Linked DNA regions of Homo sapiens. The protein of the gene in region 1 binds, or shares a complex with, the protein of each later gene. Each region holds a gene or a part of one and is shown in the gene's direction. Other genes may lie near its edges.

Region 1 (10,312 bases):
TTTGTTTTGTTTTGTTTTGTTTTGAGACGGAGTTTTGCTCTGTCACCCAGGCTGGAGTGCAGTGGCGTGATCTCGGCTCACTGCAACCTCTGCCTCCCGGGTTCAAGCGATTCTCCTGCCTCAGCCTCCTGAGTAGCTGGGGTTACAGGCATGTGCCACTACGCCCGGCTAATTTTTGTATTTTTAGTTGAGATGGGGTTTCGCCATGTTGTGCTGGCTGATCCCGAACTGCTGAGCTCAAGTGATCTGCCCGCTTCGGCCTTCCAAAGTGCTGGGATTACAGGCATGAGCCACTACACCTGGCCTAATATATTCTTTACTTAGATTCTATTTTGTTAGTTACTAAGATCACTATCCAGCTTCCTTTCAAATCATATTTACCTGATACACTCTTCCATCCTTTATCTGCAACCTTTCTGTGTGCTTTCATCCCACTCTTCCTACCCTGACAGTCCCCAAGCAGCCACTGATCTGATCTACTCCCTGTCACTCTAGGTTAGTCTGCACTTTCTAGAGTTGATAAAAATGAAATCATACAGTATGCACTCTTTTGGAGGAGGAGACCAGGCTTCTTTTACTCAGCATAATTATTTTGAGATGAACCCATGTTGCATTTATCAATGGTTTATTCCTTTATATTACTTACTAGTATTCTATTGTTTATACCAGTGTGTTTATCCATTCATCCTTGATAAATATTTGGGTGGCTTCCCAATGTCTTTTTTTTTTTTTTTTAAGACGGAGTCTTGCTCTGTCTCCAGGTTGGAGTGCAGTGGCGCGGTCTCTGCTTACTGCAACCTCCGTCTCCCGGGTTCAAGCGATTCCCCTGCCTCAGCCTCCCGAGCAGCTGGGATTACAGGCACCCGCCACCACGCCCAGCCAGTTTTTTGTATTTTTAGTAGAGATGGGGTTTCACCATGTTGGCCAGGATGGTTTCGATCTCTTTTTTTTTTAATTTTATTATTATTATACTTTAAGTTTTAGGGTACATGTGCACAATGTGCAGGTTTGTTACATATGTATACATGTGCCATGTTGGTGTGCTGCACCCATTAACTCGTTATTTAGCATTAGGTATATCTCCTAATGCTATCCCTCCCCGGTCCCCCCACCCTACAACAGTCCCCGGTGTGTGATGTTCCCCTTCCTGTGTCCGTGTGTTCTCATTGTTCAATTCCCACCTATGAGTGAGAACATGCGGTGTTTGGTTTTTTGTCCTTGTGAGAGTTTGCTGAGAATGATGGTTTCCAGTTTCATCCATGTCCCTACAAAGGACATGAACTCACCATTTTTTATGGCTGCATAGTATTCCATGGTGTATATGTGCCACATTTACGATTAACAAAATGTGGTTTCGATCTCTTGACCTTGTGCTCTGCCCACCTTGGCCTCCCAAAATGCTGGGATTCCCCACTGTCTTTTTCATTTGCATGCCTGTAATGACTAATGAGGTTGAACATTTTTTCATGTGCCTCTTTGCCTATTTTATACTGGGTTTTTGTTTTCTTGTTGTCGAATTTTGAGAGTCCTTTATGTATTCTGAATTTAAGTTCTTTAACAGATATGTGACTTACAAATATTTTCTCACTATTTTTTTTTTTTTTTTTTGAGACAGAGTCTTGCCCTGTTGCCCAGGCTGGAGTGCAGTGGTGCAATCTCGGCTCACTGCAAGCTCTGCCTCCTGGGTTCAAGTGATTCTTCTGTGTCTGCCTCCCAAGTAGCTGGGACTACAGGCGCCTGCCACCATGCCTGGCTAATTTTTGTACTTTTAGTAGAAATGGGGTTTCAGCGTGTTAGCCAGGATGGTCTCGAACTCCTAACCTTGTGATCCGCCCACCTCAGCCTCCTTAAGTCCTGGGATTTACAGGCATGAGCCACCACGCCTGGGCTATTTTCTCACAATTTATGACTTGTCCCAGAAGTTGTTAATTTTGATGAAATCCAGTTTACCTTTTGTTTTTCTTTTATGGATCATGTTTTTGGTGTTATGTCTAAGAACTCTGCCTAACTCAAGGATACTAAGATTTTCTCTTCTCTTTTCTTCCAGAAATTTTATAGTTTTCAGTTTTATACCCAGGTCTATGATTGATATGCTTGGACCTGTGTCCCCGCCAAAATTTCTTGAGTTGTAGGGGCGTGGTGGGAGATGATTGGTTCGTGGAGCAGTTTCTCATGAATGGTTTAGCGCCATTCCCCTTGGTACTGTCCTCACGATAGTAAGTTCTCATGAGATCTGGCTGTTTAAATGTGTGCAGCACCTCCCCCTTGCTCTCTCTTGCTCCTATTCCTGCCATGTGAGACGCCTTTGCCTTCTGCCATGATTGTAAGTTTCCTGAGGCCTCCCTAGAAGCCAAGCTGAAGCCACCGTGCTTCCTGTGCAGCCTGCAGAACTGTGAGCAACTCAACCTCTTTTCTTCATTAATTACCCAGTCTAAGGTATTCTTTACAGCAGTGTGAGAATGGAATAATACATTGATTGTTTTGAGTAAATTTTTCTATGTGGGGCAAGGTATAGTCTTCTTTTAATACATTGCTGGATTTGTATGGAACCATTCTTTGCAGGAGTTCTCACTGTAATGAAATTTGTCCCTGTTTTGTTGGTTGTTTTCATAGCATCTCTGGAAGTTGATGGTAGAAGAATCCGATTTACTGGGTCAGCTGAAGGTAATGGCTTAGCTGTTGTAATTCTTACGGTGATGCTGGTAGGCAGTGACTTGCATTCTCTGATGTTTCCTGAGAGCACTGGTTGCCTATACCCAGACTTCCAGAGTCAACTCATTTGTTCTTATCCAAGTGAGCAAACTATACCTAATGCCACAAATCTACGATAATACAAAGATTTGGGAGTGTACTTTTTTCTGGCATATATATATAATTATGTTGCTATTGAATAAATAATGCCAAATACACACCAGTCATCCTGCTATGCGGAACTAAGTATGCCTCTTTGAAATGCCAAATGCCTGTATCTTTTGTAGCTTGGGCTCAAATTGATGAAATTAGAAATTACTGTATACATGTAATTCCTCAGGACAGTGAGGAGCTCCTGCCTTGCTTTACTGAATTGTAAATTGAAATTCTTTCCTCAGATCATTAAAGACTTTTACCTTCTGGGACGTGGAGAACTGTTTCAGGCCTTCATTGACACAGCTCAACACATGTTGAAAACACCACCCACTGCAGTAACTGAGCATGGTAATTGTCAGTGGCCCTGAGAATGATCAACTGATTGACATTGCAGGGTATTTCTTGGCTGCTGCTGACCCTTTTAAGGCCTGCTCCACATAAGAGCAGCCTGATGAGTTACAGAGCAGTGGCTTCCAGAGATGGAAGGCTCTTGCAGGTAGGCTTCATGCTGGGGTCATTGGGAACAGTGTCTTGGCCTGTGACCCTTCCTGGAAGAGTTGGTTCAGGCCTTCAAACCAGGTATTTTTTCTCATTGGATTATAGCCATATATACTTTATGGGCCATATTGGGACTTAGTGCTGCTTGTAGTTTTGCAGTAGAATTCTTTAGGTGTGAATGATGGAAACTCACCCGAACTAGCCTAGTTAGGAAAGGGAAATGGATTTGCTATTGTATCTAAAACCCCAGTGGGAAAACTTCGATTCATTCTCTCTCTCTCTCATTCACTCATTCACCACATCTTGTTTGTGTCTCTTGTGAACACTTTGATGACCTTCTGGAAACATGATCACAGCATCTCCCAGGAATATGCCTCACAGTGTCCTCTACGGAAGGAACTGAACCCAGTCCCTCTTGTTGCAAGTTAGAGAATTCTAGGGAATTATCTAGGTTTTGATTGGCCCAGCCCACATCACATCCCTATCCCTGTATCAGTCAAAGAGGTCAGACACTAGGCTATGCCTAGTTCAGTGAAGAGTCTACCCCTTGACCCACTGATGTCCATTCCCATTCATACTGCATGAGTAGAGTTGGGTAAGGATCCAAAAAAAGAAACTGTGAGAAAGAAAATACATACACACAGGCTGATCATTTTTCTAACTCAGTAAAACCATAGATGTCCACTGTACTTATATAGTACAAATATAAGTACTTGTGGTTGCAAATATCAGAAAATCCAATTCAAACTCACTTAAGCAAAGCAAAAGGAAAGAAATAATGTATTGATTCTCATAACTGAAAAGCTCAGACGTATGATGGTTTTCGGCTAAGTTTGATCCAGTGACAGGTGTGGCACCTTTAGGACTTGGTCTCTTTCCATCTTCTACCTCTTTCTTCTCAGACAGGCCTGCTCTGTATGGTAGCAAGATAGTCTCTAGCCAAGTTTACATCCTACTAAGCCCCTGTTTATCTTGAAAAAAGAGCTGGACTCTTTTAGAGTCTGAATAGAGCCTCTGGATTGGCCTGGCTTGGTCATGTTAATATCCCTAAACAATATAGCATAACAAAGTAGAGTATTACATTCCATTTGATCATGCCTACATCACCCAGCTACCCCTAGAATCAGGTGTTGTCTAGCACTAACCCACTGGAAATATGTGAACTGTACTGAATAGGGATGATTCTCCAAGGAAAATCAAGAGGCAGTTTGTCAGCAAGAAGAGAAGGATGGATGGGTGTTAGACAAATGAAACAGATGTCCACTGTGTCCTGCTGTTAGCATTGAGCATGTTGGGGGAGAAGTGGAAAGCTGGAGGAGTCTGGGTTTGTTATGTAGCCAAGCGTCCCTGTCAGCCTGCGTGTTCTTTCTTGCAGATGTGAATGTGGCCTTTCAACAGTCAGCACACAAGGTATTGCTAGATGATGACAACCTTCTCCCTCTGTTGCACTTGACAATCGAGTATCACGGAAAGGAGCACAAAGGTTTGCCATTCCTCCCTGCCACCTTAGAGTTCCTGCTGGTCATCATCCATTTTCCCATCTCTGCTTCCATCCCCCGCCACAGAAACCATATGATTTTGGATCTTAGAAATCAGCTAGTACAGTACTATAATTCTATAGAGAAGAAAAGGAAAGTCCAGAAGTCCAGAGAGGCTAAGTGAGATGCCCAGGCCATGTTTTGGGGGAGTTGGTTTTTTTGGTGTTTTTTTTTGTCATGCTGCTGGAATGGTGCCTGTTTATTTCCAGCCCCCAGATTTTAAGGCTGAGGAAAGAATCTCTAGAAGACCTCCCAAGAGAACCTCACATAGAAGTTTCCTTGCCCCCTTCTTAGTGTCCCCTGTAAGCTTCTGACATCGCAGACTCCATTGAGCTCTGTTGCTTTTCTTTTGGAGACAGAGTCTCACTCTGTTGACCAGGCTGGAGTGCAGTGGCACAATCTTGGCTCACTACAACCTCTGCCTTCCAGGTTCAAACAATTCTCATGCCTCAGCCCCCCTGAGTAGCTGGGACTACAAGTGCGTGCCACCATGCCCAGCTAATTTATGTATTTTTAGTAGAGATGGGGTTTCACTGTATTGCCCAGACTGGTCTTGAACTCCTGTGAGCTCTAGTTTCATTAATGTTATTCACTTGTTGAGTCTCTGGTTCTAGATTAACCAAGTTGTTATCTTTTCTTTTTTTCTTTTCTTTTATCACAGCAGATGCTACTCAGGCAAGAGAAGGGCCTTCTCGGGAAACTTCTCCCCGGGAAGCCCCTGCATCTGGCTGGGCAGCCCTAGGTCTTTCCTACAAAGTACAGTGGCCACTACATATTCTCTTCACCCCAGCTGTCCTGGAAAAGTGAGTATTTCTGAGTTTCTCACAGGTAAATATGACCCACCTTACTTGTAAGGGAAGAAACTAGCAGGAACAGAATTAGTGGGAAAGCAAGGTGTGGTGGCACACACCTGTAATCCCAGCTAGTCCAGAGCCTGAGCAGGAGGATCCCTTAAGCCCAGGATTTCAAATCCATCCTGGGCAACATAGTAAGACCCCCATCTCATAAAAAAAAAAAAAAAAATTAATGGGAGCAAGAGAGCCACCCAACTAGTTTTTAACAATCTGTAAATCAAAAATTGTAAACCCTTATGCCTTCAGGGGCTAGACTGATCACATTAATAAGTGAAGCCACAGATATGAGACACGGAGTTGGAATCAGTGGGAGGGCATATCTACTTCAAACCATCATTTTTTTAAATTGCCAAATAATAAGCAGTTTGTTGGCTGCCAGTTTGTGAGCTCTGGAAAATAAGGTCTTAGGCACCATGTCGAGATAATGGCCCTTGATGATTCCATCACACCTGACAAGGTCTCTCCCTCACTTTTGTAATATTTTTTGTTGATTTACTTGGGAAAGTCCTCCAGCCTACATGTCTGCTATGGATGTTAGCCACTGGGGAGAAGACAAAATCCTGTGTCCTCATTATTCACCTTCAGTAACCAGCAACATTATACTACTTTTATCTGTCCCTCCCCCACTTTTTTGCTAGAGCTGTATAAAGCAAATCACAGTCATTTCATTCTGCCAATAAACAATTGAAAAAGGCATATTTCAACAGAACTACAATGCCATTATCACATCCAGTAAAATTAACAGTAGTCCCTTATAATCCCTTATAATATCCAGTCTACATTGAAATTTCTCCAGTTATCTAAAAATTATCTTTATGTTTGGGTTTGTTCAAATCAGTTTCCAAACAAGGTCTATCATTTCATTATGTTTGTTCCTTTAGAAATAGACAATTTTAAAAACCAAACAGAATGGGACTGTCTTCTGCAAGCCTACCTACAAACAGGTAAATAAATCCTATTCTACCAGGAATCAGCTGTTCTTCCCGTGTGTCTTTTAAGTATGGAGTCTCAGCATTAAGCAGTTAGCACCTGAACTTGCAGGGAGGCAGGAGCGGGAGTCTGTCTCAGAGGGAAGCTATTTTACTTTCTTTCGGCTCTCAGCGACAGAGAATCAGATTCATCATAATCCTTGATTCATAACACACTATTTTTTTTGAGACAGGGTCTTGCTCTGTTGCCCAGGCAGCACACTGCAGCCTTGAACCCTGGGTTCAAGCAATCTTCCTGCCTCAACCTCCCAAGCAGCTGGGACTATAGGTGGGCACCACCACACCTGGCTAATTTTTTTAATTTTTAGTAGAGATGGCATCTCACTATGTTGCTCAGGCTGGTCTTGAACCCCTGAGCTTAAGTAATTCTCCTGCCTTGGCCTCCCAAAGTGCCGGGATTATAGGCATGAGCCAACACACCTGGCCTGCTTTAAGAATTATAGAAAAGGCTATATGTAATCTTTTGTGATTTACCTTTTTCATTCAAAAATCATGTTTTTGAATATGAGAAGCAACACGAGTCAACCATTCAAAAAGATTATAAGGGTATAATCTAATATCCAGTCCACACTGAAATTTCCCAAGTTATCTAAAAAATGCAGAGATGGGGTCTCATCTTGTTGTATAGCTGGAGTTCATTCGACTGCTATATAATATTCCATTGTATAAATAAATTATAATTTATTTGTCTACATCTCTAGTCACTCTTTCCTTACTGCCTGTTTGTGAGAGGAGTGGGTGGCACAAAGTCCTAGAGTCTGTCGTGTGGGGGAAGTGCAGGGGATGAAATTTTTGTCTTGAATATCCTGTTATTTCTGTCCTAGGTACAATGTTGTTTTTAAGTACTTACTGAGTGTGCGCCGGGTGCAAGCTGAGCTGCAGCACTGCTGGGCCCTACAAATGCAGCGCAAGCACCTCAAGTCGAACCAGACTGATGCAATCAAGTGGCGCCTAAGAAATCACATGGCATTTTTGGTGGATAATCTTCAGTACTATCTCCAGGTCTGTGCTAAGAGATGAGTAGAAGGAAGGGGTACGGAAAAACGTCTAGGAGGTTGGCAGGGAGTATTGAATAGGGACTACAAGTTTCTATTTGATAAAATGGTGGGGTTTGGGAAAATTCAGGAGTTATATCACCAAGCATGTTTCTTAAAATAAAAAAAGCATTTTATTTTATTTTATTTTATTATTTTTTAGAGACAGGGTCTTTCTCTGTTTCCCAGGCTGGAATGCAGTGGTACAGTCATAGCTCACTGAAGCCTCAAGCTCCTGGACTCAAGTGATCCCCCTGCCTCAGCCTCTCAAGTAGCTATGACTACAGATACATGCCACCACACCCAGCTGGTTTGTTTTTATTTTTTGTAGAGATGGATTCTCACTTTGTTGCCCAGGCTGGTCTCAAACTCCTGGCTTCAGCGAGGTGTCATGGGTCACGTCTGTAATCTCAGCACTTTGGGAGGCTGAGATGGGCGGATCACTTGAGGTCAGGAGTTTGAGACCAGCCTGGCCAGCATGGTGAAACACCATCTCTACTAAAAATACAAAAAAATTAGCCAAGCGTGGTGGCGCCTGTTTGTAGTCCCAGCTACCTGGGAGGCTGAGGCAGGAGAATCGCTTGAACCTGGGAGGTGGAGGTTGCAGTGAGCCAAGATCATGCCATTGCACTCCAGCCTGGGCAACAGAGTGAGACTCCGTCTCCAAAAAAAAAAAACTCCAGGCTTCAAATGATCCTCCTGCCTTTGCCTCCCAAAGTGCTGGGATTATAGGCATGAACCACCGCCACACCAGCCTCTTAAAGGCATTTTAAAGAATCCTCATCAACAATCTATTATTTATTGTTGACTTGCCCCTTATTTTTATTGTTTGCTATAACTTCTGGAATCCTGTAGGTGACCAAGTCAGTCAGTAGACGGAATGTGGCCATGAGTGGATTAGGATGGGGCAGGGGAGGCTGGGCGCAGTGGCTCACACCTGTAATCCCAGCACTTTGGGAGGCTGAGCCAAACAGATCACCTGAGGTCAGGAGTTCGAGACCAACCTGGCCAACATAGTGAAACCCCTTCTCTACTAAAAATACAAAAATTAGCCATGCGTGGTAGCGGGCACCTGTAATCTTAGCTACTCAGGAGGCTGAGGCAGGAGAATTGCTTGAACCCTGGTATGTGGAAGTTGCAGTGAGCCAGGATCGCACCACTGCACTCCAGCCTGGGTGGCAGAGCAAGACTCCGTCTCAAAAAAAAAAAAAGGAAAAAGAGAAAAGGATGGGGCAGGGGAGAGTGGTCAGCCAGGACGTTGGAGGGAGGGGGTTCAGAATTATGCAAATAACTTCCTACAAGGCTGGGCAATATAAGGGTGTCTTTGGTCAGCCTTAATGTGACTTGGTTAGAAGGAAGATGAGTGGAGGCAAAGCATTTTCATTTCAATCTGTCAGGCATCTTAATGTCTTCGAGTGCTTAGAATATGCAAAGTGCTAAAATTTTTTGTAATGTCTATCAGGTAGATGTGTTGGAGTCTCAGTTCTCCCAGCTGCTTCATCAGATCAATTCTACCCGAGACTTTGAAAGCATCCGATTGGCTCATGACCACTTCCTGAGCAATTTGCTGGCTCAATCCTTTATCCTATTGAAACCTGTAAGTAAGGCTCATTGGTTTCCTCAGACTGCTTCTACCACTGACCATTCCCTTAGGCAGTTTGAGTTGACAGGATACGAAACCATCATTAAGCAATTATTCAAGTCCATTTTAAAACATTTTTTAAGAATGTGTAAAGCGGCGGGGCATGGTGGCTCATGCCTGTAATCCCAGCACTTTGGGAGGCCGAGGTGGGCGGATCACAAGGTCAGGAGTTCAAGACCAGCCTGGCCAACATGGTGAAAACCCGTCTCTACTAAAAATACAGAAGAAAAAAAAAATAATAGGTGTGGTGGCTCGCGCCTGTAATCCCAGCTACTTGGGAGGCCTGAGGCAGGAGAATTGCTTGGACCCAGGAGGCAGAGGTTGCAGTGAGCCAAGATCATTCCACTGCACTCCAGCCTGGGCAACAGAGCAAGATTCTGTCTTGGGGGAGCAGATAAAAAAAAAAAGAATGTGTAAAGCAAAACTAAAAAGGCATGTTAAACGGGACCTAAGATGTCTTTGAATTTCTGAAATACAGGGTGTGGTGAGCAGCTACAGATGAAAGAATTATGTGCTTAAACCCTCAGGAGTTAAAGAAACTCAAAATTCTTGCTGACAATACAGAAAAACCAATGAAAAGCATATAGAGTTCACCTTCTTAGAAATCTTTTGGACCAGGATGGATCAGTCATTTGAAAGTTCTTTTCATAGACAACTAGAGTAGTGTTTCTCTCTCGATCTATGTATGTGTTTCTGTAAGTACATATATGTCTCCTTCGTGGCAGTTATTTTCAACTTTGGCTGCACATTGGAATCATCGGGACTCTTTAAAAAAATCTAGGTGACAGAGCACTTAAATTAGAATCCCTGTAATAGTGGGACCCAGGTACTAATTTTTTTTAAAGCTCACAAGCTAGTTCCAATTCCAGGATAAAGAACAGGAAGACTGAAATGATCTCTGGTAGTTTCT
Region 2 (10,763 bases), on another chromosome or scaffold:
GCCACCACCCGGCTCATTTTTGTCTTTTTAGTAGAGACGGGGGTTTCACCATGTTAGCCAGGCTGGTCTCGAACTCCCGACCTCAAGTGATCCGCCCGCCTCGGCCTCCCAAAGTGCTGGGATTACAGGCGTGAGCCCCCATACCCGGCTAATTATTATTATTATTTTTAGAGATGGGGGTCTCGCTATGTTGCCCAGTCTGGGCTCAAACTCTTCTGCTCAACCAATCCTCTCGCCTGGGCCTCCCAAGTACCTGGGACTACAAGATGGCGCCACCGCGCCCGGCATTAGCTTACTATGTAAAAGCCCTACCAGACTCACGTGGCCGGGGGTCAGTTTATTCTCATCTCTTGAAGCCATGCGCTTCACCTGGGCCGACTGGGAGACAGTCCTGGCAAAGCCTCTGAAAACAGCCAGCCCCTAAGGAGCGGTTCTGTTGGGGGAAGGGAGCCTCAAGGCTAACGAAGGAGCTCCCACCCTACCCTTCAACTTCAGAGGGAGAAAAGAACCCTTCCCTGAAAGGGCGAGACTACTGGGTCCTCTTGGGGGACGCTGGAGATCCTCCCGACCAGAGCTGGAGGAAGCTGAGAGGCTCTGCGGGGTGCGGGGAGGGAAACTGAGCCGAGGCCGGGTAGAGGGCGGGCGTGGGGCGAGCCAGAGACTTCTCAAGAAGCCCAGAGGATTCTGGGGACTGGAAAGCGGCCGAGTTCTTTAAAAAAAAAGAGAGAGAGAGAGAAGAAAACAAAATCTCTCGTCTGAGCATGACTCTTGGCGGTGGTGCTTTCGCCAGCGCGTCTGCAGCGGTTCCCAGAGAAAGCCCGCCAGGCAGGGACAGACTGACAGACCGACGGAAAGGTCTTCCCAGCGAAGACTTGGAACGCCCCAGGGGGTGGGGGAGGCTGCACCGCCTCTTCAGTAATTGGTTTGGAGACAATTGGCCATCCATACGGAAAAGATAAAGTAGATCCTATCTGACGGCAGGCCTCCAAATAAATTCCAGATGAACTAGAGACCTACAGGGAACAAGCAACGCTATTACAGAGCTTTGGGAAGAAAACGGAAAGATAGCTGTATGACACTGGGATAGGGGATGTTTTCTCTAACAAAGTATAAAACGTGCAAAACATAAAGGAAAAGATGGTATGGACCGGGCGCAGGGACTCACGCCTGTAACCCCAGCACTTTGGGCGGCGGAGGAGGGAGGACCGCTTGAGCCCGGGAGTTTTTGTTTTTGTTTTTGTTTTCTTGAGACAAGGCATCTTGCTCTTGCCCAGGCTGGAGTGCAGTGGCAGCGGGATCTCTGCTCACTGCAACCTCCGCCTCCCAAGGAGCTGGGTGGGGCTAAAGGCACCACCACCACACTTGGCTAATTAAAACAATTTTTTTTGCAGAGATGAGGTCTCACTATACTGCCCAGGCTGGTCTCAAACTCCTGGCCTCAAACGATTCTCCCGCCTCGGCCTCCCAAAGTGCTGGGATTACAGGCTGTTCCACTGTGCCCAGGAAGCCCAGGAGTCCGAGATGAGCCTGGGCAACACAGCGAGACTCCCATCTCTATTTTTTTTTTTAAAGATGGTATGGTGTTATGATACATATTGGTTTTCGTCCACAGCTCCTGGCTCATGACTCTCATAGTCCTTGTTAGTCTTTTGTTATAATATTGAGTGTGTTAGCCCTCAGGGGCAGTATCTGACCTTCTCCTGCACTCCTTTCACTCTAACCTTCCTGGGCCTTTCTGACTGTGGGCCTTAAGACCCTCCCATAAAGCTTCCATGAAAACCCAAGAGGACAGGGTTCAGTGAGCTTCCAGATGCCTGAACACCTGGAGGTTCCTGGAGGGTGGAGCACCCAGAGAGGGCATGGAAGCTCCACACCCCTGCCCTCATACCTTACCCTCCGTGTCTCTTCATCTGTATCCTTTGCGATATGCTGGCTTTTTTTTTTTTTTTTTCAAATGGAATCTTGCTCTTTCACCCAGGCTGGAGTGCAGTGGCGCCATCTCGGCCCACTGCAACCTCCACCTCTAGGGTTCAAGCGATTCTCATTGCCTTAGCCTCCCTTGTAGCTGGGATTACAGACACCCACCAACCACACCTGGCTAATTTTTTTTTTTTTAGTAGAGACGGTTTCACCATGTTGGCCAGGCTGGTCTCGAAGTCCTGACCTCAAGCGATGCACTTGCCTTGGCCTCCCAAAGTGCTTGGATTATAGGCATGAGCCACCACACTAGGCCTGCAATATGGTTTCTAATAAACCAGTAATTGTCAGTGTTTCCCCGAGTTCTGTGAGCTGCTCCCACAAATCAATTGGACCCAAAGAGGGGGTCATGAGAACCCCAACTTAAAGCCTGCTGGTCAGAAGTTCTGGAGGCCCAGACTTGGGACTGGTGCGGGGCAGGGAGGCAGTCTTGGGGACTAAGCCCTCAACCTATGAGGTCTGACACTGTCTCTGGGTAGATGGTGTTAGAACTGAATTAAAGGACACCCAGCTGGTGTCCACTGCTGGGTGGGGAACAAAAGCCCCATGTGTATGGTCACAGAAATCTGTGTGGATGATTGCTGTGGTGTGAGAGTAGAGGAAATGGTTACAGTTTTCTCTAAACAATTGGTGTCAGTGAAGTGGGATTTGCAGGAATGGCCCTGACTCACATAAACATGTGGTTTGGGAAGAAAAAGGATAAAAGGGTGGAGGAAGAGGTCGTCAATTCCTGGGTGACCACGTGGTCACCATGGTGTGAAGCCACAACTCTGTTGAGATCAGTTACTAAAGGTAAAACTTACTAGTGGAATTTAGAGATGGATCCAACTCCCAGGAATTGGTTCATTGAATGCATAAGGAAATGCAAACTAATAAGAAAAATGTGAAATATTCAGCCCCCTGATTATTGTTATCTATAATGGCTAAAATGAAAGTAAAAGAGGGTGCTGGGTTAGGAATTGAGGCTGGACCAAGCACAGATGTGGGTCTGGCTGAGCTCAGGCCACTAGCCTCGGAGTCACCCACAAAGGAGGAAATTATGCAGGGACAACAGAAAGTACCTCTGAGACCTGTGGTTACCAAGAAGGTAGTCAATGTGAAGGAACCAAGTAATTATCGAAACCAGACAGTAGAGTGTGGAGGAATTGTTCCATTTCATAGATCAGTATCATCAGCTTCCTGAGGAACATTTACTAAAATGGATTCTGAGAGTGACTAATTTAGGGGCAGTATGCAGAGTGGAAGAGCATGTTTGGGTTGATGCAGGACTCACAGTTCACCATTCTAGTCACAGTTGGGTATATATGATTCAGACACACAGGAGATTATTCCTGAGGGAACAGCCAGCCTGGTGGAATGTAGAAAAGTCACTGTAAAGGTCGGGCATGGTGGCTCACACCTGTAATCCCAGCACTTTGGGAGGCCGAGGCGCGTGGATCACCTGAGGTCAGGAGTTCAAGACCAGCCGGGCCAACATGGTGAAACCCTGTCTCTACTAAAAATACAAAAGTTAGCCGGGCGTGGTGGCTCATGCCTGTAATCCCAGCTACTCAAGAGGCCAAGGCAAGAGAATCACTTGAACCCGGGAAGTGGAGGTTGCAGTGAGCCAAAATCATGCCAGTGCACTCCAGCCTGGGCAACAGAAAGAGACTCTGTCTCAAAAAAAAAATTAGCTGGCATGGTGGCATGTGCCTGTGGTCCCAGTTACTCAGGAGGCTGAGGTGGAAGGATCGCTTGAGCCCAGGATTCCAAGGCTGCATAAAAAGTCTCAGAGGCTGGGTGCGGTGGCTTACGCCTGTAATCCCAACATTTGGAAGGGATCACAAGGTCAGGAGTTTGAGACCAGCCTGGCCAACATGATGAAACCCCGTCTCTACTAAAAATACAAAAATTAGCAGGGTATGGTGGAGCGTGCCTATAATCCCAGGTACTTGGGAAGCTGAAGCAGGAGAATTGCTTGAACCTGGGAGGCAGAGGTTGCACTGAGCTGAGATCAAGCCATTGCACTCCAGCCTGGGCTACAGAGTGCGACTACGTCTCAAAAAAAAAAAAAAAAAAAAAAGGCTGGGCGTGGTGGCTCACGCCTGTAATCCCACAGCACTTTGGGAGGCCAAGGCAGGTGGATCACATGAGGTCGACCAACATGGAGAAACCCCGTCTCTACTAAAAATACAAAATTAGCTGGGCGTGATGGTGCATGCCTGTAATCCTAGCTACTTGGGAGGCTGAGGCAGGAGAATCGCTTGAACCCGGGAGGTGGAGCTTGCGGTGAGTTGAGATCGAGCCATTGCACTCCAGCCTGGGCAACGAGAGCGAAACTCCATCTAAAAAAAAAAAAAAAAAAAGATTGTAACTTGGCTACTTGGCTGAGCATGGTGGCTCATGCCTGTAACCCAGCACTTTGGGAGGCTGAGGCAGGTGGATTACCTGAGCTCAGGGGTTCGAGACCAGTCCGGGCAACATGACAAAACCCCTGTCTCTACTGAAAATACAAAAAAATTAGCCGGGTGTGGTGGTGCACACCTGTAATCTCAGCTACTAGGGAGGCTGAGCCAGGAGAATCGCTTGAACCTGAGAGAGGCAGAGGTTGTAGTGAGCCGAGATCATGCCACTGCACTCCAACCTGGGCAACAGAGTGAGACTTAGTCTCAAAAAAAAAAAAAAATCTTAAGTGGCATTTACAGTGTTTGTGATTCTAGATCAGGCTACGTTTCATTCCATAAAATAAATAGAATGAGTGTTCAGATGAGTCAAGCACAGGTTAGTTTTTATGGACAAAAAAGGGTAGAGAAAAATAGAAACAGAAGGAAAAAAAGCAGATGGGTCCTTTCAAAGTTACTTTTCTTGTAAAAGGACTTCCGTATCATGCCGGCTCACACTGGCTTGTTTGGGGTTTTGGCTCTTCCTTCCCTCTCCTGATTCCTCTGAAGGTTTGATAAACAACTTAGTGTTGCTTAGTGACATAGAACTTTAGCGTGAGTGACTCCATTTTGGTTTGGTCTGTTGAGCCAAGCACAGGAGCTCAGTGCAAATCAATGGCCTCCTATAAAATTTATTTAACTGAACCCTTGTGCATTGCTGGTGGGAATTTAAAATGGTGCAGCTACCATGGAAAATCGTATGGCGATTCCTCAGAACATTAAACACAATTACCATATGATCCAGCAATTCTACCTCTGGGTGTATATCCAAAATAATTGAAAGCAGGGACTCGAACAGATATTTGTACACTCACATTCAAAGCAGCAACATTCACAATAGCCAAAAGGTGGAAGCAACCCAAATGTCCATGGAGGGATGAATGGTTATGCAAAATGTGGTACATCTATACAATGGAATATTATTCAGTTGTAAAAAGGAAGGAAATTCTGACACATGCTACGAAATGGAAGGATCTTGAAGATATTATGTTAAGTGAAAGAAGCCAGACCCAAAAAGACAAATACTGTATAATTCCACTCATATCAGGTGCCTAGAGTAGTCAAGGGGAAGTTACTGTTTAATCGCGATAGAGTTTCAGTTTGGGAAGATAAGAAAGTTCTAGAAAAGAATGGTGGTGGTGGTTACAGAACAATGTGAGTGTACTTGGTGCCACAGAACTGTATGCAGTACTTACAAATGGTTACAATGGTAAATTTAGGCCAGGAGTGGTGGCTCATGCCTGTAATCCCAGCATTTTGGGAGGCCAAGGCAGGAGGATTGATTGAGGCCAGTAGTTTAAGACCATCTTGGGCAACACGGTGAGATCCCCATCTCTATAAAAATACATTTTAAAAATTTAAAAATTAGCTGGGCGTGGTAGCACACGCCTGTAGTCCCAGCTACTCGGGAGACTGAAGTGGGAGGATCACTTAAGCCAGAAGTTCAAGGCTACAGTGAGCTATGATCGCGCCACTGCACTCCAGCCTGGGCGACAGAGCGAGACCCTTCTAAAAAATAAAAAGGTAACATACATGTGTATGTATTGTAACACCATTAAAAAACAGAAATTTAAACGAAGAAAAGTTGGCTTCTAGCCCTTTGATCTAGCAAAGCTGACAGTGTCCTCACCTACCAATATAGGTAGATGACTCCTTACACGTGGACAAGCACATCCACCTGGCCGCTTCTCCCCTTTCCTCCCCTCCCCCGTTCCTCTCCTCCCCAACACATCCAGGTTCCGACCCTGCCACCCCCAACGAGTCTCACTGCGCAGGCGCGGAGCGGTGGGCAGGAGCGGGCGTGGCCTGACTCTGCGCCTGTGCGGAATTCCAGCTGCGACTGCTGAGGGAGAAAATGATGCCCAGGTTGGGCTCCCCGGCCCACCGGCCGAGGAGAGGCCTGCGCTGCACACGCGCAGACCGAGCATCCGCGTCAAGAGGCGAAGAGAGCGCGCGCTCCCCACGTCCTGCGCTCCTGGCTGCCGGGCATTCGTCTCAGCCGTGACTCTCGCCAGGCCGGGGCTGGCGCGCCCACGTCTGAAGAGCGATGCCCCGGGAGATCATCACCCTGCAGCTGGGCCAGTGCGGCAACCAGAGTGAGCAAGCGAGCGCCGGCCCCGCCGGTCTCTGGTTCTGCCCCTTCGGGTCCCACCCAAGTGCCTGGCTTCCACCAGTCCCCCTTTCCCTTCCATGAACCCCCTGCCCTGCTGCTCTGGATAACCCAGACCGAGAGCTGCGCCTCCAGCCCGGGGCTGGGGCAGCTACCAAACCCAGGCATCTTGGGTCCACCCTCTGATCGTGTCAGCCTCTGAGACTAAAACTGGGCTCCTCAGGCCTTAAGGCTCCAGCAGACCCGGGCATCTCCCCCCTCCCCCAGTTGGGTTCGAGTTCTGGAAACAGCTGTGCGCCGAGCATGGTATCAGCCCCGAGGGCATCGTGGAGGAATTCGCCACCGAGGGCACTGACCGCAAGGACGTCTTTTTCTACCAGGTGCCCCCAGCGACTTGGCCGGGGGCGGCAGTGGCCCAAGGGGGCGGAAGGGAAGGGAGTGGCCTGGTACTGGGAACCCCGCTGGGCAGTAGGGCCAGGCGGCTGGCTTGAGGAGGGAGGGCCGGAGGGAGCCAGAGTTGGGAGGACTTCGGACTTGGGCCGCCCTAGCTGATTGGGCCCCCTCCTGGACTCCCCTTGACAGGCAGACGATGAGCACTACATCCCCCGGGCCGTGCTGCTGGACTTGGAACCCCGGGTGATCCACTCCATCCTCAACTCCCCCTATGCCAAGCTCTACAACCCAGAGAACATCTACCTGTCGGAACATGGAGGAGGAGCTGGCAACAACTGGGCCAGCGGATTCTCCCAGGTGTCCTAGCGACCATTCCAGAGACCTTTGATATTCCCATCCAGAGGCAAGGCAGGCTCAAGCTACTAGGAATTTGACCTGACTGACAGAAAATAAGAGACAAAAGGATGTCCCGAACAAGAGGGACAGCCAGGGAGAGGTTTATGCAAATTTTGTGCAAATCATTTGCAATAGTAGCACTTCTGGGTTGAGGGCTACAGCCTAGGCTCTGCTTCAGGGTGGCAACAATATTCCAGGGTAGACAGAATTCTTGGTGCTGTGCTGAGAAAAGATGCTCTCTGGAACCTTTGGCCTGACCCTCCCTTTCCATATCTCTATACAGGGTGAGAAAATTCATGAAGACATCTTTGACATCATAGACCGAGAAGCAGATGGAAGTGACAGTTTGGAGGTGAAGTTATGGAGTGGGGGAAGGAATGGGCAGGGAGGCCGAAGAGTGCTGGGGACAGGTCAGGAGGTGGCCTGGATAGGTAATATGAGGGGAGCAATTCAATTCAAAACCCGTTTATGGAGCATCAGATGTGGGATATTGAGGTGAATAAGATATAATCTTTGTTCTCAAGGAAGTCATAAATCTGAATGGCACCGGCCCCTTAGGCATGAGTCATTCAGCTGCTTCTCCAGCTCCAAACCTTCCCAAGGAGCCTCAGCCTGGATGCATAAGAGGAAGCTTTGAGACATTGGCGTTTTGGGAATGGAGAATGAACCAAGCCGAAGTCTCTCCCCCAGATCCTTGGAGACTGCCTCTCCATCTCTCCCCATGCTGGGTGCGATATGTTCCTGGCTTACAGCTCTTATAACCCATGTAATTTCCTAAGGGACTAGAGCAATAATAGTATGTTTTGTTAAAATATTTGACCTTTTGTCCTTGGTTTCTGAAACAGCTCCAGAACAGCTCCAGAGTGATAAAGGTGAAAGACAGTCTTTTGTTATTTATAACAAGCCCGTTTCTTTTAGTTTAATCTTTCATTTTATTTTAATTAGTTAATTTTACTAACCACTGTACTAAGGAGGAACAAGTGCCTTTCAACCAAACCTGAGCTTATGTTAAAGAGGCGATTTTTGGAAAGTCCCAGATAGCCACTGGATGGGGGGCTGGTTGCCAGGGGAACAAACCTGGTGCTCTGAGGGTTGGAATTTACAGGCCCACCCCTCACCTCTGGGGAAGGGAGAGGGGATGAAGATTGAGTAGAGCACCAATTGCCAATGATTTAATCGGTCATGCCTGTGTAATGAAGCCTCCATAAAAATCCAAAAGGACTGAGTTTGGGGGCTTCCAGGAAGGTGAACAAGAACACATCCACAGGCCAGGAGGGTGCAAACCCAACGCCACAGGGCAGCAACTCCTATGCGCCGGACCCTTCTAGAGCTTCCCCTCGGTATCTCTTCATCTGGCTGTTTATTTGTATCCTTTAAAATATCCTTTATAACAAATGGATGAACGTAAGTAAGTGTCTCCTTGAGTTCTGTGAGCTACTCTAACAAATTAATTGAACCCAAGGAGCAGTCCTGAGAACCTCGATTTATAGCTGGTTGGTCAGAGGCACAGATAAAACAACCTGAAGCTTGTGTTGGCATTGGAAGTGGGAGAGTCTTGTGGGACTGAGCCTTCACTCTGTGGGATCTGATGCTATCTTCAGGTACAGATACTCCTCAACTTACAATGGGTTTATCAGGATGTAAACACATCACAAATTGAAAATATTGACTAGGCACAGTGGCTCATGCCTGTAATCCCAGCACTTTGGGAGGCCGAAGCAGGTGGATCATCCGAGCCCAGGAGTTCAAAACCAGCCTGGGCAACATGGTGAAACCCCATCTCTGCAAAATATACAAACATTATCCAGGCATGGTGGTACATGCCTATAGTCCAAGCTACTTGGAGGCTGAGATAGGAAGATGCCTTGAGCCCAGGAATTCAAGGCTGCAGTGAGCTATGATCACACCACTGCACTGCAGTCTGGGGGACTGAGTGAGATCCTGTCTCTAAAACCAAAACAAATTTGAGGACAGGTGCGGTAGCTCATGCTTGTAATCCCAACACTTTGGCAGGCCGAGGCGGGCAGATCACTTGAGGTCAGGAGTTCAAGACCAGCCTGGCCAACATGGTGAAACCCCGTATCTACGAAAAATAAAAAAATTAGCCAGGCGTGGTGGTACATGCCCGTAGTCCCAGCTACTTGAGAGGCTGAGGCAGGAGAATGGCTCGAACCTAGGAGGTAGAGGTTGCAGTGAGCCAAGATCGGGCCATTGCACTACAGCTTGGGTGACAGAGCAAGACTCCGTCTCAAAAAAAAAAAAAATTGAAAATACCGTAAGTAGAAATGCATCAGGTTATAACCCAATAAGCCCATCATGAAGTTGAAAAATTGTAAATTGAACCATTGTAATTCAGATGCTTCTTGATTTAAGATGGGATTATGTCCTGATAAACCCATCATAAAGCCAAAACATCTTAAATTAAACCATCCTAAGTCAGGGACAGTCTGTAGGTAGTCCAGAATTGAAGTGAATTAGTGGATACCCAGCTGGCATCTACTGTAGAATTGACTGCTTACCTGATGTGTGTGGTAAGACCCCACCCATCTGGTATCAGAATTGTGTTGTGAGAGTGTGGCAGGAGAAACTGAGTCTGTTTATTCCTGTATACACACAGGGCTTCGTGCTGTGTCACTCCATCGCTGGGGGTACGGGTTCTGGCCTGGGCTCCTACCTCCTGGAGCGACTGAATGACAGGCAAGCCTGTGTTTGGGGAGAGGGCATTAACCCTGGTTCCCTGAGTAATGTCATTGCTTTTTTCTCTTGAGCTAGAAAGTCTGCCACTACCCCTTTTGAGTCATAGGGACAGACCCACCCAAGGACCATGTTGGAAGCTATTTTGGGGGGTGGGGGTTTACCTGTGGAGGGGAGGGGATCTACAGAGTTTGAAGCTTTCAGGCTTATCCTTTTTGGCTCTGAAGACTCAGTTCTGCCCTCACCCCTTTTGTACAAAATGGCACATATGGGCAGTGATGGAGGGGTCCTTCCGGTTCACTATGCCACCATCCTCTTTTCTCTCAGGTACCCCAAGAAGCTAGTGCAGACTTATTCAGTGTTTCCCTACCAGGACGAGATGAGCGACGTAGTGGTTCAGCCCTACAATTCACTCCTGACACTCAAGAGGCTGACGCAGAACGCAGATTGTGTGGTGAGCAAAGAAAGAGTTGAGGGGCTGGGTGTGGTGGCTCATGCCTGTAGTTCTAGCACTTTGGGAGGCCTAGGCAGATGGATTGCTTGAGCTCAGGAGTTCAATACTAGCCTGGGCAACATGTGAAACCCTATCTCCACAGAAAATACAAAAATTAGAGCTGGGTGCGGTGGTTCACACCTGTAATCCCAGCACTTTGGGAGGCTGAGACGGGCGGATCACCTATGGTTGGGAGTTCGAGACCAGCCTGACCAACATGAAGAAACCCCATCTCTACTAAAAAAACAAAATTAGCCAGGCGTGGTGGCGCATGCCTGTA
Region 3 (10,833 bases), on another chromosome or scaffold:
ATACCGAAGTTTTACACTCCCCACTTGTCAGAAGAAAAACTGAGACAGAATAAACAAATCGCTTCCAGGCAGAGATGAAGCTAGGATTGGAAGCCAGGACCAACAGTCCCCGAAGGGTATAGAACAGTCCTGCTGTGAACAAAAGAGTTTTAGCAGAATCTGCTGTTGTGGAAAGGGCTAATACATCCTCGTGGAGCGCTGCCGCCAGGGCTGTGCTGCTGGCCTTGTGCAGGGAGCTCACGCAAGAGCCAGAGGATTCAACGGGCTGGGGCAGGATCTTCTCAGGGAGATGGAGAACCAGCAGTAAATCTGCGTGTTTGCATTTTTCTTGTGTTGTGCTTTCTCAAGCAGCCGACAGGCCCCGGGCGGCCCCACCACAGCCACCCTCGGCCAGTGCTCATCTCCCACCCCACACATGTGCGTGTGAAACCTCTCTTCACTGATGCACCCAGGCCTGGGCTTCAGGCTTTAGTGTCTTCCCTTGAGTGCTTGGGAACCTGCCTTCAGTTTTCAGAGCACGAAGCACTGTGCCATGTCAGCTCTGAACCTGAGGCCCTTGAGATTCCTTGACTCCAGGTTGCTGGAGAGCTCTCAGCATCATCCTGTGGAGCTGGGCAGCAGCTGCAGATGACCACCCACTGCCTCCAGCCAGACCCAGAGCCCCAAAAGGAGTGGGCTGTGAGGCAATGCCAGGGGCAGGGGGCCAGGAGCACACCAGTCACATGAAGGGACCAGCCCCACAGGGTCTGTGTGTTTTTCTCCCCGTGTGCAGAGACAAGAGATCGTAGAAATAAAGACGCAAGACAAAGAGATAAAAGACAGCTGGGCCCGGGGGACCACTACCACCAAGACGCGGAGACCGGTAGCGGCCCAGAATGCCAGGCTGCACTTTTATTGGATAGAAGACAAGGGGGCAGGGTAAAGAGTGTGAGTCATCTCCAATGATAGGTAAGGTCACGTGTGTCACGTGTCCACTGGACAGGGGGCCCTTCGTCATTTGGCAGCCAAGGCAGAGAGGCAGAGAGAGAGAGGCAGCTTACGCCATTACTTCTGCATATCAGAGACTTTTAGTACTTTCACTAATTTTGCTACTGCTATCTAAAGTGCAGAGCCAGGTGTACAGAATGGAACATGAAAGCGGACTAGGAGTGTGACCACTGAAGCACAGCATCACAGGGAGACGGTTAGGCCTCCAGATGGCTGCGGGCGGGCCTGACTGATATCAGGCCTTCCACAAGAGGTGGAGGAGTAGAGTCTTCTCTAAACTCCCCCAGGGAAAGGGAGACTCCCTCTCCCAGTCTGCTAAGTAGCAGGTGCTTTTCCTTTGCACTGACGTTACCACTAGACTACGGTCCGCTTGGCGACGGGCATCTTCCCAGACGCTGGCGTCACCGCTAGACCAAGGAGCCCTCTGGTGGCCCTGTCCGGGCATGACAGAAGGCTCACACTCTTGTCTTCTGGTCACTTCTCACTATGTCCCCTCAGCTCCTATTTCCGTATGGCCTGGTTTTTCCTAGGTTATGATTGTAGAGTGAGGATTATTATAATATTGGAATAAAGAATAATTACTACAAACTAATGATTAGTGATACATATATAATCATATCTATGACATATATCTAGTATAACTCCTGTTATTTTATATATTTGTTATACTGGAACAGCTCGTGCCCTCGTTCTCTTGCCTTGGCACCTGGGTGGCTTGCCGCCTATATCACATGCTGTGGGAACAGGGCCGCTGGAGGAAGACGTGGTCGGGAGTCTCTGAGCGCCCTAATTTTATCAAAACAGAGTGATTTCTCCAGGACACACTGCCCCCAGTGTATCTCTGCAATCCAATGCCAGCCCCAATCTCCTGGCCTGCATTTCCTGATGCAGGCTCTGTGGTCCCCGCTGGCACTAGTGATGGATCCTGCACCCTCTGGGGCAGCACCCCCCACTCCCCCAGCATCCCACACACCCCCAAGCACCCCATGCCCCCAGAGCCAGTGCCCCTCCCTGTGGGCATCAGATCCTACCCCCACCAGGTCTACTCCCTAAGTGGTGTGGCAAGGACAACTGGGTGTGGCTCCCAAAGCCAGGAGGTCCGGGACGAGGTGGAGTGCTGTATCCTACCCCATCACCCACCTCTGAGGGGTGCCAGGACTTTATAAATCTTCCTGAAAACTGAGGGTGGAAAACAGAATACCCATGGGTAACAATAACCACTCCGCACCTGACTCAACACAGAAATGAAGACTCAAGACCATCAGTGAAAAATACTTATTTCATGTGTTTAAAAATACATTCTTAGGGTGGGCCCTGCAGGAGGAGACAGGCCGTCCACATCTCCTTCCCAATAGTGTGTCCAGGTCGTTTCCAAAATCTGTGGGTCCCTCACAGCTTCTGATGACAGCTGCTAATGCCATTTGCTGAGGAACAAGGATGGGGAGGATGGCGAGGGCCTGGCCCCCAGGGCGGCCACACCAGAAGGTCGGAGAAAGGCCCAAGGCGGATGCCACGCCCAGCAGTGGTGACTGCCCCCCACTCCTTTTCTGAGTCTATCAGCATTGTTTGGTTTTCTTCTTGTTGCTTTTAAATCCTCGAGCGGCACCCTGACCAAAGCAGATGGTAGAGGGTATTCTGGGATGGAAGAAAGTTTCTATTAGATGCTGTATTTGCCAACCAACAACCCAGGTCATAACAGCACTTGTGTGTCTCCTTCTCATTCTCTTTCACTCTGGGAACATGCGGAATGCAGAGCCGGCCCTCCTGGGCCCTGGGGCAGCTCCCTTTCCACAGCCTGAGACCTAGTTCCTGTGGGGGGTCCCCGCCAGCCACCAACGCACACCCGCTGGGAAGAACTCCGCAGAGAGGGCGGCTCCTGCCAAGCCCTCTGGGGCTGAGACTTCCTGCTACCCCATGTCCATTCCATGAAAACCCCTACTGTCCCAGCCCCCCGGGGCTCATTCACAGGCCAAAGTCCAGGCATCTGTAAGGAGGGTGCAGGGAACATTAAGTTCATCGTTCCACCTGTTTGGAGTCTTTGGTGATGTTTTTCCCCACTTGTTCACCGTTTTTCCCAAATTAATTTAAAATCAACTTTAACTAGAAAGGCAGACGGCACAGGTGACGCTAGAAAGGCAGACAGTACAGGTCATGCTAGAAAGGCAGACGGCACAGGTCATGCTAGGAAGGCAGACGGCACAGGTGACGCTAGAAACGCAGACGGCACAGGTGACGCTAGAAACGCAGACGGCACAGGTGATGCTATTAAGGCAGACGCCTGGGTTGTGACTGAAGCAACTGCAAGTGAGACTCTTTCCATCCCACTCAGACAATGAGGAAAAGTGAGTGGTGCTTGGCATTCCTGCGCTTCAATGGCTCAAAAACAGAGTATGCGAGAGAAACTAAGTTATTCACAGGACCTGAGATATCTGGACTTTCTTCTCTGGCGGAAGCCGATTTTCTTACCCAGCGTTACCTTTCTGAATTCAGTATGAGAAGAGCTGCGGCCCAGGTGCAGCCCAGAATCCTCAGCACCGAACACATGTTGAGAACGGGTTTCAGAAAGAGCTCAGACACTGACCTATGTCTGTAGATCCGCCTCTCACCTGCCGGTGCAGGGGAGGCTGCCACAGGCTCAGAGCAGATTTCCATGGCCTCCCCTTCTGACCGCTCTCCACTGTCCCCTGGGGCTTCTGCTGAGGCTGGGCTGCGGGGAGAGAGCAGTGAGTAACTGCCCTGCACGGCTCCCACAGCCCCTGTGTTCCCCAGAAATGAACATGCAAGAAAGAAACTGGATTTCCCTGTAAGTAGCATATTTTCTTACTATTTTGGCATAGTCTGATTTTATAGTGTGGTTTAAGATACTGGGAAAAGGAGAATGATTACAGCAAGGCCATTGTTTATATAATAGAGTCTGCATCTTATAAACTTAACTGTAACAATCATACTTTTTTTTGAAAATAGTATTTTTATGGTGCCAACGGTGCCACGGGTCTTTTTATGAGTGTGAGAAATTTGCTAAAGTTAACCAGAGACTATAAACTAGTCTCTTCCATAATACGAATGTCTTAATCCAGCATTGCACGGTTTTTCTCCTTAAAATGATCCCTCGGAAAGGAGACAATTACTTTACACGTAAGTCTTTGTAAAGCCTCCCACATTGCAGTGGGTTCTCCCAGTTCTTTTATTTTAAAGAGCAAATTACTACTTGAGAAAATGTAGAGTCTGAAAAACTCTGATCAATAAAATTGTAGATGATTATGAAAGTTCACCTCATCAGTTAAAAAAAGAAGAAATATAACACAATTTAAAAATTGTTCCGGCTGGACATGGTAGCTCATACCTACAATCTCAGCACTTTGGGAGGCTGAGGCAGATGGACGGCTTGAGCCCAGGAGTTCACGACCAGACTGGGCAACATAGCAAGACCCTGTCTCTACAAAAAATAGAAAATTTTGCCGAGTGCGGCGATGCGTGTTGGTAGTCCTAGCACTTTAGGAGGCTGAAGTGGGAGAATCGCTTGAGCCTGAGAAGTGGAGGTTGCAGTGAACCTACATCACACCACTACACTCCAGCCTGGGTGTCAGAGCAAGACCCTGTCTCAAAAAAAAAAAAAGATTGTTCCTGGAAGTATTTCCCAGAGTGCACTCTAGGCAGGAACATGTTAATCAACAGCTTTGTCATCAAGTTCATATGCGCACAACCAACCAGGACAAAAGGAAAGCCAGGGCTGCATGATGTGTGAGCACGGCCGACGGCTGCAGGAGGTACAGACACGGCCCCGAGGGGTGTGAGTGCGGATGACCACGGCCGACTGCTGCAGGAGGTACAGGCATGGCCCAGAGGGGTGTGAGTGCGGAGGCGCTGCGCCCGCTCATTCCCACACCCCCTCTGCTGCCTCCACCGGCACAGAGCTGGGCAGCCAGGGGCTCCCCTCCAGCCTCCCTTCGGCAGGGTGGCCGCTGGCACAACCACCTGTAGCTGTGTTGCCAGGGCTTCAGGTACCTGCAGGTGAACACCCCATTAGGTGACACACAAGTGCTTAATAAGTCTGACCGTCTATGCATTCCGGCTAGTTGGAAACCTTTTCCTAAAATCAAAAGCAGACACGTGCTGAGCCTGGCGGCTCCCTACCTTCTGCTTTTCTTTGGCTTATCAAACCGGAAGTCCGCGGGGTACAGGTGCATCCTCACCATGTGATCCTTCCGGTCTCTGCTGGTCTTGAACTTCTCTGTGCAGCCTTCTACCAAGCACTGATACTGAAATGGAGACCGTGTCACCTCCCTCTGACCCCTGGCCCTCCCCCACCGCCATGCCCCCGTAGCAGAGCTGCCAAGGGCGGAAAGGTGTCCCCGGCCTTGCCCGAGCACCCGAGAGCTGGGGGCAGCACTCTGAGCCCATCACCAATGGGGGGTGGCCTCGGCGGCTGTGCAGTTGTCACCCACCATGTCCTGCCTCTCAGACAGGATCTGGAAGAGCGAATCGTGCCACTCCAGGATGTGGGCGTCCAGCAGGTGTCCGGAAGGGAAGGCCCGCTTGCAAAAGGAGCAAACATTTCCGTGCAGCGTGTGGTAGTGGTGCTCGTAGTCGTCCAGGGCATCGAACACCTGGCAGCAGCCGGCCACCTGGCAGGCAAACGCGGGCACCCTGCCAAGGAGACGTGCTTCAGGAGCCCTTCCTCCGGTGCGAGGAACCAAGCTGGACTTTCTGCACAGTTTCCCTTTGAGACGTCCAATAAAGCCCCTATGCATCTTTTGCAATCCCAAACCCTCTTTTTATGAATTAAGTTTCACAAACAGGCTAGGTGGTGGAAGAGTCGGCCACGCCAAAGCTGGACAGGCACAGCGCCTCGGTGGGGCGGCCGCACATGGAAGAGCGGCAGCACAGCCCCAGGGACCAGGCACCGGTCAGGGAGGCGGCGCAGGAGTAGCACTGGCTAGGCACTGCCCATTCGCTTACCTGGGCTTCTCAGGCACGTCGGCCACCTGCATGATCACGTCCTGGAGGTAGAGGTGGCGCTGCACGTCCCCATCCTGCAGGAAAAGTGCGCCGTGGGCGGGGCCAGGTGACTCGCGGCACGCCCACCGCGTCAGGCCTCGCCCACACCCGTGGCCCCAGTCATCCCGCGCTCCGGTCCCGCCCCACAGCCTCAGGCCCCGCCCACTCCACGTTCCGGCCCCGCCCCACCACCTCAGGTCCCGCCTGTCCCAGGCTCCGGCCCCGCCCCGCAGTCGTAGGCCCCTCCCACTCCAGGCTCCGGCCCCGCCTCGCCGCCGTAGGCCCCACTGGATCCTACAACTACTTTTTCCCTCTTTTGCTCACGCACCTCGAAGAACTGGTGCTCCCGCGGGAAGCGCACGGGGCGCGCAACGAAGCGAAAGGGCGCGGCCCCAGCCGCGGGATCCCGCTCTACAGGCAGCGGCTCCGCCGCCCCGGGCCCCGCAGCGAGGCGGGCGCACAGCGCGGGGGGCAACTGCATCACCCCGGGCGCGGGCGGGCGCAGCCTGTCGGCCACCGTCCGCGAGCCGAGCCGGACGTGACGTCACGCTCACTTCCGCCGCCGTCGGGGGCTGCGCGGGGGCTGTGGCTCCGGGACTGCGGTGAGTCCTGGCCGAACGCGGGCGCGGGCGTGATGAGGGGGTTGGGGGACTGCCAGGCCCGGGGGGGCCCACGAGGCGACGGGGCTGGCGGGACGCGGCTCTTCCCGCGCGCTCCCTCTGGCTGTGCAGCGGTCCCCGAACTCTGGGGCCGAAGCCCTTCGGGCCTGCACCGGCCAGGCCAGCGTCTTGCCCCGCGGCCCGACACTCAGCCGGGGCGGGGCGGAGCGGGCCTCCGGGTCGTCCCGGGTGTCCCCTCCCAGCCCTGGGAAGCCGGGTCGCAGGTCCCCCTCTCGCACGCCCTCTCCCGTCCGCCTTGCCCCGCCTGTCGTCTCCCGCTGCAGTCCCTGGATCTTGTTCCCTCTAAACCAGTCGCGAACTGGAGCCAAAGTGACTCCAGTTTTATTGTAACCGTTTTTAATTTAAAGCCCTTGGGTGACTTCCCGTTACTTTAGTTCAAAGGCCCTTTCCTGGTTTGTCGGGGTCCTGTCGACCTCTCCAGTCCCCGCAGCTCCCGTGAAACACAGGACCTGTGCTAGGTGCTCAGGGCGTGTGGGGGAAGGCATCACAGGAGGGCGCGGCAGCCTTGTAGGAGAGACAGACGTCAGAGTAAAGAGTCACCTAATTAAAATGGTGAATGACAACACACGCGGGAAGCAGTGGACGCTTCAGATCTACTGCAGAGAATGGGCCCAGTGGCGGATAGAGGCTTTAGCTTTCTCGTCTGTCACCCAGGCTGGAGTGCAATGGTGCGATCATAGCTGATAGATCGCTGCGGCCTCAAATTCTTGGGCTCAAGTGGTCCTGCTGCCTCAGCGTTCCAAAGAGCTGTAACTGCAGGCGTGAGCCACCATGCCTGCCCCTGTACTTTTTCCATGTTTAGATACACAAATATCTCTGTGTTACAGTTGTCTAGTGTTCAGCACCGCCACCTGCTGGGCAGGTTTGTAGCCCACGAGCAAGAGGCTCCTCTAGGTGGTTTAGGTGCATTGTAGGCCGTACACCATCCAGGTCTGCGAGTGACTCTGATGATCGCACAGAAGGAAATCATGTAACCATACGTTTCTCTTTTTTTCTTTTGGAGATAGTGTCTCTCTCTGTCGCTCAGGCTGGAGTGCAGTGGCGCGATCTGGGCTCACTGCAACCTCTGCCTGCTGGGTTCAAGCGATTCTCGTGCCTCAGCTTCCCAAGTAGCTGGGATTACAAGTGTGCGCCACCAGGCTTGGCCAATTTTTGTATTTTTGGTAGAGACTGGTTTTCACCATGTTGGCCAGGCATTTCTCAGAATGTTGAGTGATGCATGACTGTACTTTCTGTCTCTGTAAAAGCCTTTGGGCTCTTGACATTTTCCACAAGTTGTAAAATAACATTTTTCAAACCAATTTGTACAGTTAGCTTTGAGCTCTCAACAGAGACTCTTTTTCACGTCCCTCTGTGTTTTAATCACTTGGAGTGTGTGCTCACTAGGAGTGTGTGCCCCGCTTGTCCGTGGTGGAGTGTGACATGCGTGCATTGCTTCCCTCAGCACGCGTCCCTGCGGTAGCTCACAGCCTCTGTGAGGAGGACGTCAGTCCCTCCCAGTCACAGTTGCTGGGCCTGTCAGTTTGTGTGATTAATAGTAAGAATTCAGGAGCATCAAGAAGGCCAAGTCAGCGGCCATGGCTAGACGTTCCTCCAAGAAGCAGCCACGGCTAGATGTTCCTCAGAGCTGTGTTTTCAGTGGGACGCTGTGCATTTCTGGCGGGACAGCTCTGTTGATGATTAGCATCCCCCGCCCTTGCCCTCTAAGTAGCGAGAGCACCCTTCCATGACCGTGACACCCCAGAGTTGCCCTAGGACTTTTCCAAAGGTCTTCTGGGGGGAGGGACTCTGTGCGAGTACGGGCTGCCCTCTTGGAGGCCCGGTCCCCACATTCAGGGAGAGCAGCAGGCTCCTCATGGGATGAACACTCATGACGTGCGGGCATCTGTGCTTCTATTTCTAGAAGAGATACGAAGTTTCCTGAAGGTAGTTTTTATTTTTTTTATTATTATTTTTTGAGACAGAGTCTCGCTCTGTTGCCCAGGCTGGAATGCAGTGGTGTGATCTTGGCTCACTGCAAGCTCCGCCTCTCGGGTTCATGCCATTCTCCTGCCCCAGCCTCTGGAGTATCTGCGACTACAAGCGCCCGCCACCACCCCCGGCTAATTTTTTTGTATTTTTAGTAGAGATGGGGTTTCACCATGTTAGCCAGGATGGTCTCGATCTCCTGACCTCATGATCCGCCCACCTTGGCTTCCCAAAGTGCTGAGATTACAGGCGTGAGCCACCGTGCCCAGCATGTAGTTTTTAAATAAATACTCAGATGATTTTTCTTCATAGGTAGCTTTCTCTCCTGACTTGTGTCTGGTGGGGGAGTGCTTTGTTTTGGTGGCAAATGGTTTTCTTGCCACCTAGCATGACCAAAGTGTTTCTCAGACCAGCAGTTATAGGACAACCTGCAGTCCTCGGGGAGCCGAGTAGAATGTGGGTGAAACAGGCCACCCTTGGATTTGAAGGGGCCGCTGGCCGGAAAGTTTGGGCTGTCTTTTCTGCTTCACAAGTAGTTTGCAGGGCCTCGTCCAGGGCTCCCATGACTGTTAAAAAAGCATCTGGTAGTTTAAGATGTTGTCAGTGATTGGGACCCAATTTTCCTTTTGTAAACCTAACCATTTCCCAGATAACAGAGTTAACACCTCCAGGGAGCAATGGTGCCGCATGTTTGTTTCTGCTTTCCTGGTAACAACAGTGTAAGAACTTACCACGTATGGGCCCTTCTGTGCTTTCTCAGGGTGATTTCACTTCTCTCTACCACAGCTCTACGCAGGACCTAGGGCTTCCCCTTTTCAGAAGAAGCTTGGAGAGGACGTGTCCTTGTTCAGGGTCCCACAGCCTAGAAGTAGCCACGTCAGTGTCCAGACTGCATGGGGCTCCATGGCGCGTGCCCTGCTGGCCTTGTGCTTGAACTGTAGTTACCGTGAGCACCTCCTGGGTCAAAAGCATGTGTGTGAGCAACTCAGCACCATGCCTTCTTATCGCTCTCCTTCCATTTTCGGAGATACCCTGCCTGTGACCAGTATTTGATGTTCATCTACAGATAAACTGTCTTCCATCACACAGGATTAGAATCTCGGTGTCGAGTCCCGTGCTAATAATCGTTAGTGAATTAGCATATTGTGGGAGTATGTGCTGAGTCTTCTGTACTCTATTGTAGGGACCAGCCCCACAGGGTCGGTGGGTTTTTCTCCTCGTGTGCGGAGATGAGAGATTGTAAAAATAAAGACGCAAGACAAAGAGATAAAAGAAAAGACAGCGGGCCCGGGGAACCACTACCACCAAGACGCAGAGACCGGTAGTGGCCCCGAATGCCTGGCTGCGCTGTTATTTATTGGATACAAAGCAAAAGGGGCAGGGTAAAGAGTGTGAGTCATCTCCAATGATTGATAAGGTCATGTGTGTCATGTGTCCACCAGACATGGGGCCCTTCCCTGTTACGTAGCCGAGGCGGAGAGAGAGAGGACAGCTTATGTCATTATTTCTTCTATGTTCTTTTCAGAAAGATCAAAGACTTTAATACTTTCACTAATTTTGCTACTGCTATCTAGAGGGCGGAGCCAGGTGTACGGGATGGAACATGAGAGCAGACCAGGAGTGTGACCGCTGAAGCACAGCATCACAGGGAGACAGTCAGGCCTCCGGATAACTGCGGGCGGGCCTGACTGATGTCAGGCCCTCCACAAGAGTTGGAGGCGTAGAGTCTTCTCTAAACTCTCCGGGGAAAGGGAGACTCCCTTTCCCGGTCTGCTAAGTAGCGGGTGTTTTTCCTTGACACTGACACTACCGCTAGACCAAGGTCCGCTTGGCAAGGGGCATCTTCCCAGACGCTGGCATCACCGCTAGACCAAGGAGCCCTCTGGTGGCCCTGTCCGGGCATGACAGAAGGCTCACATTCTTGTCTTCTGGTCACTTCTCACTATGTCCCCTCAGCTCCTATCTCTGTATGGCCTGGTTTTTCCTAGGTTATGATTGTAGAGCAAGGATTATTATAATATTGGAATAAAGAGTAATTGCTACAAACTGATGATTAATGATATTCATATATAATCATATCTATGATCTAGATCTAGCATAACTCTTGTTGTTTTATATATTTTGTTACACTGGAACAGCTCGTGCCCTCGGTCTCTTGCCTCGGCACCTGGGTGGCTTGCCGCCCACACTCGATGTTTTG

The links.
Region 2: TUBGCP4 (region 1) and TUBG2 share a complex: the UniProt entries of both Homo sapiens proteins name them as parts of the gamma-tubulin ring complex.
Region 3: TUBGCP4 (region 1) and TUBGCP2 share a complex: the UniProt entries of both Homo sapiens proteins name them as parts of the gamma-tubulin ring complex.

The regions. Positions count from the first base shown.
Region 1 is NC_000015.10:43,392,494-43,402,805, forward strand, and holds part of TUBGCP4 (gamma-tubulin complex component 4), read left to right. Parts: intron 1-2,613; coding exon 2,614-2,664; intron 2,665-3,089; coding exon 3,090-3,195; intron 3,196-4,720; coding exon 4,721-4,828; intron 4,829-5,544; coding exon of another isoform or gene 5,545-5,547; coding exon 5,548-5,686; intron 5,687-6,618; coding exon of another isoform or gene 6,619-6,634; exon of another isoform or gene 6,635-6,681; intron 6,682-7,550; coding exon 7,551-7,728; intron 7,729-9,222; coding exon 9,223-9,357; intron 9,358-10,312. UniProt on the Homo sapiens protein: Component of the gamma-tubulin ring complex (gTuRC) which mediates microtubule nucleation.
Region 2 is NC_000017.11:42,653,060-42,663,822, forward strand, and holds the start of TUBG2 (tubulin gamma-2 chain), read left to right. Parts: upstream 1-6,224; 5' UTR 6,225-6,444; coding exon 6,445-6,493; intron 6,494-6,774; coding exon 6,775-6,887; intron 6,888-7,089; coding exon 7,090-7,257; intron 7,258-7,579; coding exon 7,580-7,648; intron 7,649-8,141; coding exon of another isoform or gene 8,142-8,168; intron 8,169-9,913; coding exon 9,914-9,993; intron 9,994-10,317; coding exon 10,318-10,444; intron 10,445-10,763. UniProt on the Homo sapiens protein: Tubulin is the major constituent of microtubules, protein filaments consisting of alpha- and beta-tubulin heterodimers. Gamma-tubulin is a key component of the gamma-tubulin ring complex (gTuRC) which mediates microtubule nucleation.
Region 3 is NC_000010.11:133,304,577-133,315,409, reverse strand, and holds the start of TUBGCP2 (gamma-tubulin complex component 2), read left to right. Parts: upstream 1-6,537; 5' UTR 6,538-6,587; intron 6,588-10,833. Other genes in the region: ZNF511 (zinc finger protein 511), read right to left, coding at 2,544-2,622, 3,569-3,694, 5,122-5,246, 5,433-5,634, 5,947-6,020, 6,314-6,466; ZNF511-PRAP1 readthrough, read right to left, coding at 3,569-3,694, 5,122-5,246, 5,433-5,634, 5,947-6,020, 6,314-6,466. UniProt on the Homo sapiens protein: Component of the gamma-tubulin ring complex (gTuRC) which mediates microtubule nucleation.